Regions from separate parts of the Homo sapiens genome. Here all the other regions are reported to be linked to region 1. Evidence: microRNA targets listed by miRTarBase, many of them from high-throughput screens and not tested one by one. Region 1 holds a microRNA gene; each other region holds the end of a gene's coding sequence.

The links. Region 1 holds the annotated microRNA hsa-miR-548ao-5p (AGAAGUAACUACGGUUUUUGCA, at 808-829, shown strand). A microRNA usually pairs through its seed, bases 2 to 8, with sites in the 3' UTR of a target mRNA and lowers its output. Matches are read on the target gene's strand: a 7mer-m8 pairs with bases 2 to 8, a 7mer-A1 pairs with bases 2 to 7 and ends in A, and an 8mer does both.
Region 2: miRTarBase lists PPWD1 as a target of hsa-miR-548ao-5p. The part of its 3' UTR that is shown has no 7-base or 8-base seed match.
Region 3: miRTarBase lists TOB2 as a target of hsa-miR-548ao-5p. Seed matches in the 3' UTR shown: 7mer-m8 at 2,679-2,685.
Region 4: miRTarBase lists CSDE1 as a target of hsa-miR-548ao-5p. Seed matches in the 3' UTR shown: 7mer-m8 at 2,051-2,057.

The regions. Positions count from the first base shown.
Region 1 is chr8:41,268,813-41,271,930 of GRCh38, reverse strand. MIR548AO (microRNA 548ao) reads left to right here and starts at 788; the gene lies at 788-883. The region is part of intron 2 of SFRP1 (secreted frizzled related protein 1); the gene reads left to right. It also overlaps the pseudogene RPS29P2.
Region 2 is chr5:65,587,021-65,590,138 of GRCh38, reverse strand. It overlaps PPWD1 (peptidylprolyl isomerase domain and WD repeat containing 1), which reads right to left. Exons shown (of 11, transcript NM_015342.4): 11 at 2,590-2,886. The coding sequence ends at 2,743. It overlaps TRIM23 (tripartite motif containing 23), which reads left to right. Exons shown (of 11, transcript NM_001656.4): 11 at 1-449. Among named protein-coding and RNA genes, the nearest start is that of PPWD1, 25 kb to the right of the region's middle.
Region 3 is chr22:41,433,513-41,436,630 of GRCh38, forward strand. It overlaps TOB2 (transducer of ERBB2, 2), which reads right to left. Exons shown (of 2, transcript NM_016272.4): 2 at 1-3,118. The coding sequence ends at 2,799. Among named protein-coding and RNA genes, the nearest start is that of TOB2, 12 kb to the right of the region's middle.
Region 4 is chr1:114,715,727-114,718,844 of GRCh38, forward strand. It overlaps CSDE1 (cold shock domain containing E1), which reads right to left. Exons shown (of 20, transcript NM_001007553.3): 19 at 2,887-3,019; 20 at 1,190-2,490. The coding sequence ends at 2,443. It overlaps NRAS (NRAS proto-oncogene, GTPase), which reads right to left and starts at 1,045. Exons shown (of 7, transcript NM_002524.5): 1 at 932-1,045; 2 at 324-451. The coding sequence starts at 434. RefSeq lists enhancers at 741-840, 851-1,050.

The sequences.
Region 1 (3,118 bases):
CGCAGGGGTGCAGTCATAGCTCACTGCAGCCTCAATCTCCCCAGACTCAGCTGATCTTCTCATCTCAGCTTCCTGAGTAGCTGGGACTACAGGCATGCACCACCATGCCTGGCTAATTTTTTTTTTTTGGTAGAGATGGGGTCTCACTATATTGCCCAGGCTGGTCTCTAACTCTTGGGTTCAAGTGATCTGCTTGCCTCAGCCTCCCAAAGTGCTGAGATTACAGGTGCGGGCCACCACTCCTGGCCATATTATCATTTTTTAAAGTTTTTTTTTTAAAATTTTATTTTATGTACAGAGAGCTAGCATGGTTTCTTTCACTTGGTGGATGCCTTGGATAATCCATTCAGGGAAGCTCACTTAGTCTAACCTAATGAAGCCTACCTCCTCTGCATACTGATGGAAACACTGGCAGCACATATTGAGGCCATAATGACAAGAATGAGAACCCTGGCCGAATTTTTTTGGATGGCTCCAGGAGAGCTGCTGGTGACCCATCTTGCTTTTAGGAGTGCAACAAGGCAAAAAGTGAAAAGTTTTTTTTTTTAATACTCCCTGCATTGTCTCTGTTATCTCTGAATTCCTTTTCTTCCTTTTCTGTTTTGTATGTTACAGTCTCTGCCATTCACATTTGGAGGCTTTCCTTAAATACTTGCCAGCCCTTGACTGTCCATTTGAATTTAACAGCGAGACATGACGTTGGAAGCTCTTTGTGTACATGCAGGGCCTGTGATTTGTTAGGCCTCACTTGAGAATTTTGCAGAGGGCCCATATGTCTTTTCTTTTGAACTATTCTTAGGTTGATGCAGAAGTAACTACGGTTTTTGCAGTTGAAAGTAATGGCAAAGACCGTGACTACTTTTGCAACAGCCTAATAGTTTCTTTAGAGAAAAACCACTCAATCCTCTGACACAGGCATATAAATGTAGTGTTCTAAGACCCGAGTGTCTCATTCTTCACTTTGCAGACTTTCATGTAACCCTTTGGTGTTCACGCAGCAGCACCTGTCCGGTCCTCCTCTGTGTCTAGTATACCCCAGCGGCAGGCTGTGTGCAGGTTCAGGCCTTCTTTTTTTCCCCCTTTTCTTTTCTTTTTCTTTTTTTTTTTTTGAGATGGAGTCTTGCTCTGTCACCCAGGCTGGAGTGCAGTGTGCGCTCTCGGCTCACTGCAATCTCCACCTCCCGGGTTCAAGCGATTCTCCTACCTCCAGCCTCCCAAGTAGCTGGAACTACAGGCCTTCTGTATGGAATGAAGCCCATGGCTACTGCTGGAGTTGGTGAGGGCAGCCACCTGGACTCATGGCCCAGGGGAGTAGGTTTGAGTGTCCATATGTAAACTTGCTGCCAATCCCAACATTGACAGCCTCTGTGATGGAGTTCAGGAGTGTCCGGGGGCCCCAATCAGGAGCATTTGTGGGACCTGGAGTGCAAATGGGCTTGTTTTTTACTGGCATCCCTGTCTGTCCCTCTTTTTCTTCTTTTCTCTGCACTTTACTGGCATCCCTATCTGCATTTTAGCTTTTCTTCTCCCTTTTAAGCCAGATTCTACCATCCATTTGCTTTCTGTCATACAAAATGTTGATATGTTCTTTTTTCCTTTACCACTTTCTTGCATGTGTTTATAACTTGTTTTTTTGACTCTAATTTTAAACTGACTTCAAGAAGAGTGGGAATGATTGCACGGGCTCAGTCTAATCCATGTGGCTAGCGTGCCTGCAAGTGCTCCTTCGCACTCAGTCCAGAAGCTTGGTGATATGGCTTCTCTCTTCTTTTCCCTTCCCATTGGATTTTTGCTCTCTGGAATTTGCCCTCACCACTCCAGATCCTGGCCTCCTATGGGTTGGCGTGGCCCCCTAATCACCCAGTGAAGTGCTCTAGTTTCAGACTCATTCTTAAGCTCTTCGGCACTTAGGGTTGAGGGGTGTTTCCTCCATTTAAATGGACCCTGTGGTCTTCATTGACACTGGGCTGCCTGGTTTCCCAGCGGGGCCTCCCGTGGCATTTACAGTAACTCTTCTTCCTTTCACCTGACGAAGGCGCTCTCTAGTATGTCCCTCTTTCCCTCTGTACTTTACCCTTCATTGCTACTATCATCTGCCATCAGAGGAGTTATAAGATTGATTCCTAATGCAACCCCATGCCACCTTTCCCCACAGACCCTTCCTGGATTCCTACAGCCATTCCACAGGACTGGTTATGAAATGACTGGCTCTGGGCCAATGGTTGCCTTACGTTCAAAGTCATGGGTAGGATGTCTCGGGCTTGGGAGGGTTGGAGGCACCACTCATAGAAGCAGGGAGTCAGGAGGAAGAGACGGCTTTGAAGAATGTGAGGGTTTGGGATGGTGTGTGATGACTTCCTCATTCTCATTTCAGCTTCCCAAATAAGGCCAGGCTTCTTGAGGGAGGCTACCAAGGAAGTATAATTTGTGAGCAAAAATGGTTTGGGTGACTGCAAGTAGAATGAAAGCTTAATGGCCTACTCAAATATAATGGATTATTTTAAGATTTCCCGAGAAAGACCCAGGCAGGCCCTTGTTGCAGCCTCAAATTTTGAGTTTTCAAAGTTTCTGGGTCTCTGAATTCTTGCTGGCAGCTATGCCTAGGTGGGAGTCATGTCCTACCCTTGGAGGATGTTAAAATTGTTGCTTAAGAAAAAAAACACATAATTTTTAAAATTTTTTTGTTTGGTTTTAGATTAGGGTCTAGCTGTTACAGGGAGCTGAGATCCAGGGTCCAAGGTGGTAGTTTAGTTTTAGCCCTATGCTCCAGGCACAGCAGGGTGCCCAATCAGGGAAGCATGGAGTGAGCACAGGGTGGGGATAGTGCTGGAGATAAACTTTGCTGTCTCCCAGAAGTACCCAGCAGGGGCTCCTCAGATGGTCGATCCACCAGGCCTGCAGTCGGATGGTGCCCTGCACTTTACAGACAGAGTACTGAGACTCAGAGAAGAACCCAGGACCTGGGACTGTATCCAGCTGTTGCCCCAGCTGCTACCTTCTGGGCTTCTGTTTGTTCACCACCACCATTTGCATTGCAAATTCAGGCCATGGGCAACATCGCTGGGGCCCAGGCCCTGTGAGCATGATGGGATGGGGTGGTGGTGATCAGTTCCGGGCT
Region 2 (3,118 bases), not on the chromosome of region 1:
ACACTAAGGTGAACTTGCTTCCCTTTTCACTAATTTTGCTAAACTTTGTAATGCACATTCTTAGCATATAACTGAACACAGTTGAAAAATTGTGCCTGATTATAATGTATGTATAATGGTAGGTGTTTGTGTGTGATTCATTTTTAAAGAAATATTTTTCTCAAGCTCCTATTACTATTTGTGGTTGTATTATTTCACTAATCATTAGTTAAGACTGTGCTAGTCTTCCCTGGGAAACTAAGAAGAGAGCTTTTTTATATACAGTATATTAGAATTTTCCTAGTAGCTGAATTTCTGTATTAGGTCTAAATATTACTGTATGTTATATAAAGCAGGTATGTCAAGTGTATAGCCGTAGTCTATAATTCAGGAATGCTTTATAACCATCAGAAGCCATTATTTGCACTACATATATGATAAGTATAGACAGCAATAAAATGTTAAGATCATTTTTAAGAAGTCCCATCATTATTCTTGAAAGTCTCTTTCTTGAACCATCTACCTAATATTATTGCTAGTTGTAACCAATTTAAGAAGTCATTATTTGTGCTGTGGTTAGGAGAGAAAATAAAACAAAATGGGTATGGGTTGGCATGCCTGTCAAATTTGAGATGTAGTTTATTTGATACAGCAAAATTTTAGAAATAACGTTTTGAATTTGCAACATAGGCCACATTTACTGATGAGAACAGATACTAAACTTGATCTTAACTACACCTGATCTTAGCCAAAAGGCCGAGAAGTAATGTGCAGGCCACATTTAAATAAGTAATATAACCATAGTGTTTTGAAGGCGGAGCTAAAGTTTTACATTGAACGAAGTGAAACTTTGTTACTGCCTTTTAAATTTTAAATGTAAACTTGTTTCATAAGAAAACATAGTATTTTAAATGACCATTTTAGAAAATGGCTTGCAAAACTTAGTGGTAGCTCATGAACTAATACTGCTAAGAGAAAGGCTTTTTATGTAACACTGGGATACTTCTCAATTGGCAAAGTGCTAACAAAGAAGAAGACAGCTGTATTCTTCCCTAAAAGAATAAAGGATGAAAAGGACTAATGAATAAGGATGAAATTATATCCTGATAACTTAAAACATGCTTTTAAAAAGACATGGGCAATGTATGTTTTTAGGTCTGCCGATTAAGTTTTTGATATTAATCGAAAAATTCATTAGTCAAATATGGTTTTCACTCAAAGCAAAATAATTGTATTTGTTGGGGAATGAGGCATCATCACCACTTGGTGGCAATATTACCAAAAATTTAGATTAAATTTTTAGGAATGAATAAAGCTAGGTAGGTAAGACTAAACAACTAAAATTAGAAACAGTAAATGTCACATTGAAAAGTCATTTTCATGTCTAACTTTAAGTTCTACTTTTAAAAAGGAGCATACATTACAGGAGCACAATCTGGCATAATCTCCTATCTATCTCACAACTTTGTAGCACGAAATAAATAAAGAATCCTGCTGATCAATAGAAGGAAAAGTTTAAGCCGATTTAAAACTTAAGAATATAAATTCCCTACACAGGTCTGTTGAGAATGTTCTTCCTGTAAGTTTCTGAAAGAAAGAGTCTTTCTTTCTGGAAACGAAGCAGTGAGTCTTAATAGTTATGAAGTTAGTTATAAGTGTAAGTGAAGAAGATCAATATAAGAATTTGTGCTCATATTGTTTTACTGCTCCAATTTCTACTAATCTCTCCATTGTTAGATACCAAAATTTTTATGTATACTTCTTAATGGTATATTTTCTAAAGATATACTATAACTTGAGGACAGAAAAAATTGTTTACCTATGTTAGAAAAATAATCTGAAAATCAACCTGCATATAATAAACTAAGGACTCAGGTATTCACTTATTCTGAATCTTTCATTTGAAAGAATATTTCATAATTATTAAGGAATATAACACTTTGACCAAAGTAACTTCCTGTTTATTGAGGCTTTACTCACCACTACTTACTAAACAGTTATCAAAAGACTAAAATATTTGGCATTGAAACCTTGTAAAACAAAGGAAATGACATATAATATCATATCCTAGTATTTTTTTCTTATAGGAGGGATCTGCACTCTTCTAAACATAAGGGCGGAATATCTGGCAGGTATTCAAAATTAAAGCACAGTTGTGTACCACTGTCATTATTTAATAGAGTTGTCATCGCACGGGATACCTTCTAAGACCTCCAGTGGATGCCTGAAACTTCAGATGATACTAAACCCCATATATATTGTGTTTTCATATATATATATCTATGATAAAGTTTAATTTATAAATTAGGCACAGTAAGAGATTAACAACAATAAAATAGAACAACTATAGCAGTATACTGTAATAAAAGTTAGTGAATGTGGTCTTGCTGTCTGAAAATATCTCACTGTATTGTACTCACCTATTTTTGGATCATGGTTGACAGTAGAAAGAAAACCATGGGAAAGGGGGTGGAGGAGAGTACTGTAATTATTTAATATTTAATTTGAGGCTGATTAGAAATTACCTATAATGAGTGCTATTTGCCTGAGTTTAGTCCATTTCAATTTATCACCTCCCAGGATTAGAAATATTGCGAGAAAAGTCAAAGGTAATTTTTAAAAAATAGCCTTTAATAAAAAATACAAAAATACTGTATCTTTGAAACATGATCTGTATATTCAGCAAGTCCTAAGCTTCCTAATGTAAAATAATCTGTTTAATATTGTATTTTTATTTGCAAGTACATTAAAACAAATCTTATTTTACTTGACAGTAATATTTATGATGCTGACATCCTCATAGGGCTTATCTGTTTTGGGATTGACTTTGACGTTGGAGATCCTCTGTACAACTTCCATTCCTTTAGTCACTCGTCCAAATACTGTATGCTTATTATCAAGCCAAGGCTGTGTTGGAGGACAAATGGAAAATCTTGGTAAACCCCAATTTCTTTAAATTATATCCTCTGGTTGAGCAAATTAAAGAGAATTTAAGTTTACGCTCCCCTTTAGCATATATTTAAAAAGAAGTACAATAATTTCTCAGCAATAAAAATGTAGCAGCTTTTAAAAGTTATTTCCAGTGTGTTAAAAAAAATAGAAGCATAGTATAATGTTTAATTAAATATCTGCATCTTTC
Region 3 (3,118 bases), not on the chromosome of region 1:
AATACAAACTTAAAAAAATCTGGAACAATAGAAACTGTACAGATTTGATCAATCTTTTTGTTTTGTTTTTAAACTAAAATCTCTAAACACACCAATGTCCCATTCCAAAATATTGCACAACATTCTGAATACAAAACCCTTGATTGTATTCCTCCTTCACTAAAGAAAAAAGTTCATGACCCTGCTCCCCGGGCTCCTCTCCAGGCTTGCCTCAATGCCCCCTTCCCATCCCTAGGGAGAAAACTAGAGAATCTATAACTCACTGCATTGAGAAAAACACATCATTCTGGACTAACAGTTTCCATTCTTCAGAAGATAATCCACCTTTTGATTTGTTCCTGGGAAAGAGGGATAGATAGAGGATGGGGAAAGGGGAGAAAAGGTTTTATTTCTCCTCTTTTTTTTTTAAAGTTTGTTTTTCCTGAAAAAATATGTTTCTCTCATCTTTTTAAGAAAAAATCTTGAAAAGAAAAAAATTATGTTTTTTACGTTAGAAATATACATATATTATATACCTCTTACATTTTACAAATGTAGCAAATTATTCAATACAAACGGACACCAAAAAATGTAAAAAATAAAAAAAAGTTTTCCTACGAAACCAGGTAAATTAGTGCAGATTTCTGTTTTTGTATTCTTAAAAAAAATAAAATTGAAGCAAAAATGCCTAGATTTGAGACAAGACAGACTGAACTGGGCCCAAGAGCGCAGCACTGGAGTCATGCTCCTGAACACACATTTTTCTTCGTATTTCAAAAGACACAAAGGGGTTGGTCTCCCCTCTCTCCCTACATGTGAGAAACAAGCCGACCTGGTGTGGGTGGGTGCCTGTGTGTGTGGATGGGAGGAGGGCTAGAAGGGGATGTAAGGCAGCATCCAACCTTTCCCAGAGAGAAGCTATCTGCTGGGTCTGTCACCTGTGTGGGAGCCGAGGATGAGGGAAACAAAGGGTGGCCCAGACTGGGCTGGCCCCTGAGAAGTCTAGGGGAACAGATGGTGCTGGGCTGAGAAGCCAGGACATTGCCTGCCGGGGGAGGTAGAGCTGGTGCCTACTGCAGGGAGAGGAGGCTGGCAGTGCTGGCCTGGGCTGGACCCACTGCCATAACAGTTGCCTACTTGGGGTCCCTGGGTAGGATGGAGTGGGTGGGGTGCCAGGGGCTTTGGTGCTTTCTGGTGATTGGGACCCTGATGCCAAGTGCCCACTTTGCAAAGAAGAAAAAGTTAATGACCCTGCTCCCTTGGCTCCTGTCCATGCTTGCCTGGCCTCCTAGAGTTGGAGGAACAAGCCCTCTCCTGGCAGAGGCAGGAGAGCAAGTGCTCTCCTATGATCCAATACATCAGGCGGGAGTGCTGAGTCCGTCAGGACACCACTCCTCGCAGCATCAAGGTCCAGTGGGGTTGGGTCAGGGCAGTGAGAAGGGGTGGCAAGAGGTACCAAGAAGCTCTCAACCAGGCAGGGGCACAAATGCACTCAACACCTCCAAACTAAGAGACCCCAAAGTCTCAACTCCAGGCTCAGGGCTGCCCCCGCACAGACACTAACTCTAAAATCCCACCCTGCCTCTCTGCCCACCCCCAAGGGTGCTCAGGTGAGCAGCTCCCTCTGGGCTAAGGCCAAACAACAGGAGGGTTGAAGTCCAGGGACTTCTCATAGGCATCAGGGGCTTGGGTATTCCCTCTGCCCTTCAGAGCTAACTTATTATTATTTTTTTGGTCAAAAACAAAACTGCAGATCCTTCCACAGTCTGCAAACCAGTTCCTTCTGCAGTGTTTTCCTCTGGGAGTGTCTTGGGCTAAGCCACAGCGGTGTCACCCCACCACACACACTGCCCTGCAAAAGGACTGCCAATACCCCCAGCCCATTCCCCAGCCTCACATATAAATAAGGACTTGCGACCCAGAATCACATCCAGAAGGGAAGTTTCACATGGCTTGGAATCCTTTAAAAAAGGACAGCAAACCAAATACACACACACACACCCCTCCCTACCCACAACATCCAGCCTGGGGAAGAAGGGGCTGCATGAGGGAAAGAAAGCCCATACACATCAATGGCCAGGGCCATGATGATGGTCTGGGCCTAGAGGGAATGGTGGGGTGGGGCCATAGGACAGAGATGAAAGGAGTTTCACTAGACGAAGTGCTAATCTCCCTGTAGTCACAGACATCAGCTCCAGGGGGAGGGTGTCAAGTGGCCAGCCAGCAACTCCCTGTGGCCCAGCCTGAAAGGGAGTGGGGACTGGGGTCAGACCTATTCAGGTGGCAGGGCCCGAGAAGGCCTGCTGAGGTTGGATGGCTTTGAGTGCGAGGATAGCTGGGTGACAGAGGCAGTGACACGGGCCAGCCTCTCCCTGTTCCAGGGAGGGTCAGGCTCCAGCTGCAGCTCTTTCTTCCCTATGAGCTTGGACACATCAATCCTAAACTAGGAGTGTGAAGGAGGAAGGGAGGAGCAGGGAGCAGCAGTTCACATCTGGACCATTCTTAGCACAGGAAGCCACTCATTAAAGATGTTATATAGAAAACTACATGTAAGAAAAAAAAAAAAGAAAAAGAAATATAAAACCCAAACCAACCAAATAAATCACAGGCCGGTGGGCGAGCGGTAAGGGGTGAGTGAAACACACTTGGGTGCTTTGCAGGGCCCTCCCATTCCGTGCCTGGGCTGGATCTTTTTTCTAGAAGTAAGAGTGAGAAGATCGAAAATCTTTTTGTACATTTTTCTTTTCCTCTTTTTTTTGGCCTTTCCTTTCTCTTTTCTGTGGTCTTGGGTGCTCCTGGCCCCACGGGCAGGTAGATGGTCAGTTGGCCAGCACCACGGGCTGGAACTGCTGGCTGGGATACTGCATGGTGTTCAGGTTGTAGCTGAGGCCTTCCACAAAGGGTGTCTTCTCCAGGAAGAGGCTGTTGGCACCACCTCCAAATACCTGGGCCATGTCAAAGCTGCTGCTGTTGCAGGTGCCAGCCCCACTGCCTCCAAACGGGCCTGGGGTGCCGCTGCCCTGGCCATCGGCCGCATCAAAGAAGAGGCTGGGTGAGCCACCACCGTTGTACACGAACTCCTTGGCATTGGGTGAGAGCTGGGACTGAGGGGCCGGGTTGGCCGTGATGAAGTTCAGTG
Region 4 (3,118 bases), not on the chromosome of region 1:
ATACAATCAGACAGTCTCGCTACTATGGCCTGTGTTTCTCATGTAATAGAGCTGTTATATATGAAGAAACTCATGAATGAACTCAACACTGAGTTTGCAATAGTTTACAGAACTGTTAAAAACTGGACAGGTTTTAGAAACTTCAGCAGCTAATAAAAATGAACTGTTCTCTATAAACACGTTAAGCTTATTGCATAACTGAATGTATACCCAAAATAACTTTTTACTTTCTCTCCTCTTATTCCTTTAATACAGAATATGGGTAAAGATGATCCGACAAGTGAGAGACAGGATCAGGTCAGCGGGCTACCACTGGGCCTCACCTCTATGGTGGGATCATATTCATCTACAAAGTGGTTCTGGATTAGCTGGATTGTCAGTGCGCTTTTCCCAACACCACCTGCTCCAACCACCACCAGTTTGTACTCAGTCATTTCACACCAGCAAGAACCTGTTGGAAACCAGTAATCAGGGTTAATTGGCGAGCCACATCTACAGTACTTTAAAGCTTTCTATAATCAATGGAAATGAAAACCCTAGTGTGACCTTCCATTTGGTTCTTAAAGTGACTAGAGAACGCAAAAACACCGGATTAATATCGGCCTCACACTTCTGGAGTAGTTTTCTAGCAACCCCCATCCTTAGCTATTTTTCAACAGTCCTTGGGCCCCGCCCTCAGCCTAAGCAATGGAAATCCCCCTTCCTATTACTCCCCGAAGGCTTCTCAGCTCTAGCAGGAAGCCTCCAGGCCGCAACTCCTTCCCATTCTCCCTTCTGTCTCCAAAGATCTCCCCACGTAGGCACCAAATGGAAGGACCCCCGCCCAAGGCCTTTGTCTCCAGCTGATAGATTCTGCTCCATTTCTGGCATCAGTGAAACGCCTGAACATTCCACAGCCCAAAGCCGAACACTATGCATGAGATAAACTTACCTCAAGCTCCACTGCCTCTGCTTTGGACAGATTTAGGACCACAGCCGGGAAAAATGTTGGAGACCCCGGAACCGCCATGAACAGCCCCCACCAAGGAGCGGCACTTCCGGCCCCGCCCGCTACGTAATCAGTCGGCGCCCCAGGCGCCTGAGTCCCCGCCCCGGCCACGTGGGCCTCCGAACCACGAGTCATGCGGCAGGCCGCACCCAGACCCGCCCCTCCCACACGGGACGTTTCAATAATGAAAGCGCTAGGTGCTAGTGTCTCAAAAATCAGTAAAACTTTATTCGCTTCCATTCTTTCGCCATTAACAGAAAACTGGAGAAAGCAAAAATGTTTCGTGTTTACAAAGATAAACGGCCTCTTTACCCAGAGATCAAAACCTCAAACGACAAGGGGGAAGATAAAACCGCCCTCCCCCACATCCCCTGAGCTGACCCTTGTCATCTTAGACAAAGCCTTCAGTCCACTGGCCAGGGACCCTGTATATGGCCAATTCAAGAAGAGGGCCAAGAAATCAGACCCATCCATTCCCGTGATATAAAGTTGAACAGAAGCTACACCAAGGGTCAAGTGTCTGTATTTTACAGGACACAGTAACCAGGCGGCTACTTATAAAAAAAAACAAGATTCATTTCAGGCACAACTTTTTTATTTTTTTTTGTTTTGTTTTTAAATCAGTAAAAGAAACCGGGTCCTAGAAGCTGCAGTGATCTAAGCAGCAGCAAGTTTGTGCATTCATTTTTTTTGTTTTTGTTTAAATATGTTTAAATTATCACACTGCTGGCACTCCTCATTTGCATGAAATTCTGCACCATACTTACTAATTGTAGTAAAGTTACCCCCCAACCCACGAAAAAAAACCTACTCTGGAAGAAAATTTTCACTGAAATATAACCAAACTTCTTTAAGTGGATTGTGACAAGATTATAAATGATATGAAAAATAACATTTTAAAATTTGGCCATCAACTTTAAGAAATGGTTTGCCTATACAAATTTTTGTAATTTTTAAAAGATAATATATTCTACCCTCATATGGTCCTCAGAATTAAAGCATAATGAACAGGAAGAAAAAGGAAAAGAATGCAACTGAGTGCTAAGGCAGAACATCTTGCCAGAAGTAATTAATGAAGGTAGAGTATATAATGAAAAGTGCAGAATTTCATAGGGCCAACAAGATAACAGTCTATATTTTTCACTTACACAGGCAAAGTGGATTCTGCAATTACCAGTTGCGTTAAATGCACCAAATAAAGCTCCTAAAATTGATACTATAAGGCGCCACCTTAAGTTTTTCCAGGCTGCAACTGTGCATTATTTAAAATGGTTTTCTTAAATTTATTTATTTTTTTAAACATAACACGAGGAAGGTGTTAAAACTGGTGTAATAGCTCAATAGAATAAGTATTCCAGATTTCGGGAGGGATGAAGAGGGAGATATTCAGAACCCTTCACCAGATTCCCCCCAACTTGATCATAGTGGATTAATGGTGTGCTTTGTGGATGTGGTTAGTCAATGACACCAGCTTGACGGATCTTTCTTTCTGCACCAAACCCCTGTGGGGGGGAGAAAAAAAAAACCCTGCAGTTAATGATTTGAGCGCACAACAATCATAGTACATTCACTATTCCGAAATGAAACTACAAAAGCATTATTTTTAATCATCTTATGCAGTACTAATTCTTTCCTAGAGGAGAAAATCCACAGTAAGCACTCCTGACCCATTCATTACCTAAACTGTCTTCAAAGCATCAAGAAAAGAAATGTGCTTCTTACTGTAAGCAACCATTAGGTTAGGGGGCTGAACCAATGTGTAGAAAGTCCTAACTAGTTATAAGCAATATGGAAGTCTCCCTGCTTCATTAAGTTTCCTGACCTATTGTTTAAATAGGACCACATATTTTATGTTGGTCTATCAGTTGGCCTCCCCCAAGCCTTGTATGCCCTCATACCATTGAGTTATCTGGTCCCCTTGGCTGACGAAGAACCATTAGGCGAGGAGCACTGGCATCATCCAGAGTGATATTCTTCAAGCGATTGACCAACCGATCAGGTCGAGGAGCTGCAACAGCCTTGGGGCCCTCACTGTAATTAAGTCAAAAGATGAGAAGAAACCACACTTGGTGGGCAGACAGCAAGCACTTGCAAAGGAGTGTGTTTTCCACCTAACTGCCCAAATGACTC